Linked DNA regions of Homo sapiens: region 2 is linked to region 1. A link means that fine-mapping ties the variant in region 1 to the expression of a gene that starts in the linked region. Tissue or cell type: whole blood. Region 1 holds a variant in brackets; the other region holds the start of a gene. All regions are shown on one strand. Distances are between the middles of the regions.

What was found. PIP is the estimated chance that this variant, and not a neighbour inherited with it, causes the effect.
Region 2: PITPNC1 starts here. The variant in region 1 is fine-mapped to the expression of PITPNC1 in whole blood (TOPMed, PIP above 0.99).

The regions. Positions count from the first base shown.
Region 1 is chr17:67,400,827-67,403,731 of GRCh38, reverse strand. All of the region lies in intron 1 of PITPNC1 (phosphatidylinositol transfer protein cytoplasmic 1), which reads right to left. Among named protein-coding and RNA genes, the nearest start is that of PITPNC1, 25 kb to the right of the region's middle. RefSeq lists a silencer at 1,285-1,579. The variant C/T (reference allele first, on the strand shown) is at 1,610.
Region 2 is chr17:67,376,002-67,378,906 of GRCh38, reverse strand. PITPNC1 (phosphatidylinositol transfer protein cytoplasmic 1) reads right to left here and starts at 1,626. Exons shown (of 9, transcript NM_012417.4): 1 at 705-1,626. The coding sequence starts at 752. RefSeq lists silencers at 1-131, 242-541, 552-971, 1,322-1,571, 1,622-1,741 and an enhancer at 1,127-1,820.

The sequences.
Region 1 (2,905 bases):
GGTTTACACCCAGCTCTGCCATTAATGATGGGGGTAATTTTGTCAAATCCTCTAAGCCTCAATTTCCACGTCTGTTAAATGAAGATAATAGGATCCACCTTGGAGGATAACTGCAAAATTGAAATGAGATGATTAACACATTGGGCCTGGCCCACTAGAATGTTCCATAAATGTTGGCCCTCTGTGTTCTCCCTTCCCCTTAAAGCAAAGCCTTGGTAAATAAATGTCCACACGGACACATATATAATTATGATTAAATGTTTATACACTAAAAAAGTTGGCTTCACCATTTTCTAAATTTTCTCCTCTGCATACAAAATTATAATCTTAAACTGTTTCTCAAAATATCTAACGAGAACCTTATTTTAAAAATCAAAACAAATGAGGAAGTAGGGAATAGTTCATTTTTAGCCTTATGAATATAATTGAGGGTTTCATTTCTACACCCAAATACCTACTGGTTTCTGCAACAAAGGAAAGCAGTCATGACTTTTTTTTTTTTTTTTTTTTTTTGTAGAGATGAGGTCCACTGTGTTGCCCAGGCTAGTCTCCAACTCCTGGACTAAAGCAATCCTCCCGCCTTGGCCCCTTGGGATTACAGGCACAAGCACTTCACCTGGCCAGACCTATGTTTTATGATTTAGATGTTACTGAAAAGTCAGTGACTTAGAGAAAGACACAAAGGCATGCTTATCACATCTGCCACGAAGCTAAGAAGAACGGTTAATACAGATATAACAGAAGCAAGAATCAAAAACGTGGTCAGGCTAGGCGCGGTGGCTCACGCCTGTAATCCCAGCACTTTGGGAGGCCAAGGTGGGCAGATCACTTGAGGTCAGGCGTTCCGGACTAGTCTGGCCAACATGGTGAAACTCTGTCTCTACTAAAAACACAAAAATTAGCCGGGCATGGTGGTGGGCACCTGTAATCCCAGCTACTTGGGAGGCTGAGGCAGGAGAATCACTTGATCCAGGGAGGGGAAGATTGCAGTGAACAGCGATTGCGCCACTGCACTCCAGCCTGGGCGACAAAGCGAGACTCCAACTCAAAAAACAAACAAACAAACAATAAAAACATGTGGTCAAACTTGAAACTAGTGGATGCCATTCATTGCATTTGTTTCAAAGTCCTATGGTTACGGCTGCTGTGGTATGGCTGCTTGTTTTCGGCAGAACACATACCCACAGGTTAGAGAGACAGCTTTGTCAGGAAATGGCGGAGGGGCGGGGGATGGGGGGTGGAGAAGACCAAGTGTAACTGACCACCTTGTCAGAAGCAGCCAGCAGTTTGATGCGGCTTCTGAAAATGACAGTGCTAGTGTTAAAGCTGAAGTTCCAGTGGTTTCAGCACTGGTCCTCCAATATCTAAGATCAGTAAATAACGGCCCATGGGCCAAATGCAGCCCATAGCCTGTTTTTGTACGCCTCTCCAACTACAAATGGGTTTTGCATTTTTAAATGGTTGGAAAAGAAAAAGCAAAAGGCACATAATATTTCGTGGCATGTGAAAATTTTATGAAATTCAAATTTCAGTGTCCACAAATAAAATGTTACTGGAACACAGCCACGCCTATTCATTTACATGTTGCCCTATGCCTGCTTTCATGTTA[C/T]GAGGTCAGAGTTGAGTAGTTGCAACAGAGACCTTACGGCTTGCAAGTCTAAAATATTGCTATCTGGCGGTTTGCAGAAAAAGTTAGTTGACCTCTGCTGTAACGCATTGCGTTCAATATTTTCTAAAGGGCAATAAGAAAGAGGAACCACAGGAATGGTGAGGGAGACAAAAGCATTTCATAAATTCAATCTGAAGGAATTGAGAGTAGCAAGCCAGTGGAAGAGAAGATCAAAGGAGAACAATCTAGATTTCTTTTCTTTTCTTTTTTTTTTTTCTTTGAGGTAGAGTCTCACTCTGTCTTCTAGGCTTGAGTGCAGTGGCGCAATCCCGGCTAACTGCAACCTCCGCCTCCTGGGTTCAAACAATTCTCTGCCTCAGCCTCCTGAGTATCTGGGATTACAGGCGCCCACCACCAGGCCCGGCTAATTTTTGTATTTTTAGTGGAGATGGGGTTTCACCATCTTGGCCAGGCTGGTCTTGAACTCCTGACCTCATGATCCACCTGCCTCGGCCTCCCAAAATGCTGGGATTACAGGCATGAGCCACCGCACCCAGCCAACATTATAGATTTCTTTAAATGTTTAAAGAGTCAGCATGTGGAAAGGGCTTGTGTTTGTCACTATAGTGGTAGAAACGATCCTGAAAGCTCTAAGGAGTCAGATACCAACTAAACATGAGAAAGCATCTTCCAACAAATCAAAGTGGAAAATCATAGAGGTTGTATTACCAAAAAGAGCCCACACCCAAGCGATGGCTGGTATTAAGCCCAAAGGCAAGATGATTGCCATCCAAGATTATCATAGAAAGGACTCTTAAGTGGGTAGGAAGTTTAACTGGTTTAATACTCAGGTTCTTTCCGTGATTTTATCTCAAAAGAAAGAAAACTGGCCAGGCGCGGTGGCTCACGCCTGTAATCCCAGCATTTTGGGAGACCAGGGCGGGCGGATCACTTGAGGTCAGGAGTTTGAGACCAGCCTGGCCAATATGGTGAAACCCCGTCTCTACTAAAAATACAAAAATTAGCTGGGTGTGGTGGTGCATGCTTGTAATCCCAGCTACTCGGGAGGCTGAGGCAGGAGAATTGCCTGAACCCGGGAGGTGGAGGTTGCAGTGATGCAGTGAGCCGAGTTGGCACCACCGCACCCCAGCCTGGGTGACATGACAGAGTGAGACACCATCTCCAAAAAAAAACAGAAAGAAAGAAAACAATCATAATTGGCAGGTGAAAGCGTAACGAACAATTTCTGCTACCACATTCACGAAGGATTAGACCCTACAGGGAAATCTACTTTTA
Region 2 (2,905 bases), 25 kb after region 1:
TGGAGCGCCCTCCTGTGGCCGCGTCGCAGCCCCCGCCGCTCCCGGCTCGCGCGCCGCTCCCCGCGGCGGAAGAAACAAGAGACGCAGAAAGTTTCCGAGCCAGGCGGTTTGCGAAAGGACACAGCCGGGTCCCGAGCCTCGAAGGGCGGACGTGCCGGGAGCTGCGCCCAAGCCCGCGGCGACGGCGAGAAGTCGGGCCCCGCAGGGACCTCCCCTAAGGGCTCAGAGGTTCCTCCCGCGGGGCTCGGGGCGTGCAGATCCCGAGGGCGCAGGGCTCCTCCTCGCACCCCTACCTGACCGCAGAGGGCGGGGAGGGGAGGCTGGGCCCACGGCCAGGACGGGATGCCCCCCAAACCCCAGCTACAGCGCGCGCCGGGGGCTCTTGGGTTTGGTTTATTCATTTTCTTATTTGGAGGGAGGGGGCGCACCCACTCCCTTTGGCTCATAGTGATCCCCAACAGTCTGGATTCTGGGCGCCCCCGAAAAGCCCACCCGGAGTCCGCCGCCCCACCCAGCGCCGCCCTCCCCCGCTGGGGTGACAAGTGGAAGCCGCAAATCCCCTCCCTCCTCTCCTCCAGGCTTCGGGTTTGCGGGGTAACGTCCACCTGGGTTTCCTGCCGCTCGCCCGGGGCTCGCCGGCCAGGAGGCGGCGGTAGCGGCGGGGGTCCCGGAGCGGGCGAGGCCGGGCCGGGCGCGGCGCTTACCTCGTCTACGGTGAGCGGCATGCAGATCCGGTACTCTTTCAGCAGCATGGTCCTGCCGGCCGCGGACCCCCGGGGCGGGAAGCGGGGGGCGCCCCCAAGACCAGCAAGGCTGCTGCCCAGGCGCAGGGCAGGGCGCCCGGAGCCCGGCGCTCGGAGCCGGAGGGCGAAGCAGCCCCCGCGGCGCGCTCAGCTCCTGGCTTCCTCCTCTCCGCCCCAGAGCATGTCAGGGTTTGGGTCTGGGTGTTCGCAGCTCCCCCGCCTCCTCCCTCGCCGAGGCCGGTCCTCCCGGAACGCGGTGTTGCAAAGTCAGGGAGGCAGGGAGGGAGACCCGCTGGGGACGACTCTGCTCGGCTGCCCAGGGTGGTAGGAGCGGCCGCCAGATCAGGACATGCCCGGCAGCGAGCGAGGGAGGAAAAAAGAGAGATTTCCAAAAATTAAAACGAATGCACAAAAGTCACCCGCTCGATCCGCCTCCGAAAGCAGACGGGAACCTGGCGACCCCCCTCCTCCGGCGGGTCTGCCCGATGCTAATGTCACCAGGAACACATTGCAGCCGGAGCCGGAGATGCTGACTTTCCAGACAAAGGCTCGATCGGCTTCTCTCCGCGGGCGGTAAACAAGATTTCCTGCTCTTTTTAGGGCCGGTCCCCGCGCCGCTCCGGGGCTCGGCTCGGGGAGAAAAGGGAAGCCGCCGCCGCCGCCGCCGCTCGGCTCTGCCCGGCTGGGGCCCCGGGCGCCTCCAACCTCGGCTCGCGGCTGCCAGGGGCGGGCGGGAGGAAGCTGGCGCCTTCCGCGCGCGTCCCCTCCCCCGAGTCCCTCGGCTCCCCGGGCGCCGTGCGTGCCCGCGAGTTTGCAGCCACCTCGCCGGGGCCGGAGCGTCCGCGCCGATGCAGTGTGCCTGGGGCCGGGAGGTGGGTGCGGGAGGAGCGAGCGCGAGCGAGGCTGACATCAGCAGCGGCCGCGGCGGGGAGGGTAGCCCCATCCGGCCAATGGGGAAATGGCAAAGAATGTGGAGGATTTAAACAAAACAGCATGTCTCTGCCAGACGGCGGGGCTGCTCCGGAGCGGAGCCCGGCCGGCGCTGGGGAGGCTCGGGCAGAGGGGCTTTCCTCGGCTCCTTTGCCCTTTGAATCCGCTCTCCATTGTGCCCTGAGTGCTGCCGTGCTCCATCCAGCCCCTCTGGGAAGTTTCTGGTCCCCTGACCCTAGGGACAAGTCACCAATGCCCACCACCTATGTGTGGTCCAGTAAGCAAGTCTGGGGCTGGAGAGGCAATGGGTGGGATTTGGGAACAAACCCTTGCCTGGTTTCAGAGGAGAGATCCTGGAAAACTGGGAAGTGCAGCCGTGTGAATGGAAATGAAGTACAAACGGGGAGGGAACAACCAGAGAGAACATGAACCCCACGTAGCCTGTTACCTCGCCTGGCCCGGCTCTGCAATCTTTCTGCAGATTGTGCAGGCTCCGCGCAGCAGAAAGAAAGAGTAGGTTTTCGTATCCGCACTCCTAAGTTCAAAAAGTCACAGTGAAATGTCAATGAAAATGCCTGGAGTGTTGCTATTTGATCCATATTAAACAGATCTCTCATTTTAACCACAAGAAGCACATTCTTCAGTTACTCAGGAAGCAGCATGGAACTGCTGAAGTCTGTTTTTCATTTGTCTGGTATTTTTCAGCTTGTTTTTATGAAAAGTTGCCGGATGAAAAATGCATCAGTTGCCTGTATGAGAATAACCTGTAAGCGTTATCTTTTCTCCGAAAAATCTTCACGCTCTGAAGTCCTGAAGCTAGAGCTTAGATGGCGATGCAGATGCCTCAATACAGTATTTTGAATTGTGTTTAATTAATAAGTAATTAACCAATATGACGATGATGGGCTTGTGGCAAAAGTCATCCAGAGGGCTGGAGAGAATTTATAACTGTTAACTGATACAAACCCTCCTAGGAAAATGATACCCTATATCCAGCTTATATTTTAGTGGAAACTATTTTCCAGATAAATGCTTTCCAGAGTTGGCTCAGAAATATTCACAGCAACTAATTAAAGCTAAACCAAATTCCTCGAGGTGGAAAATCTAAATCTGACACTGCAGTGTTGAATAATAACACATTGGAAGGCTGTGATATGGAAAGAAACTCAAGCTGTTTTTCCTTTTTTTTTTTTTTTTTTTGCTTCTTACTTGAAAACAAATGGAAGACCTAA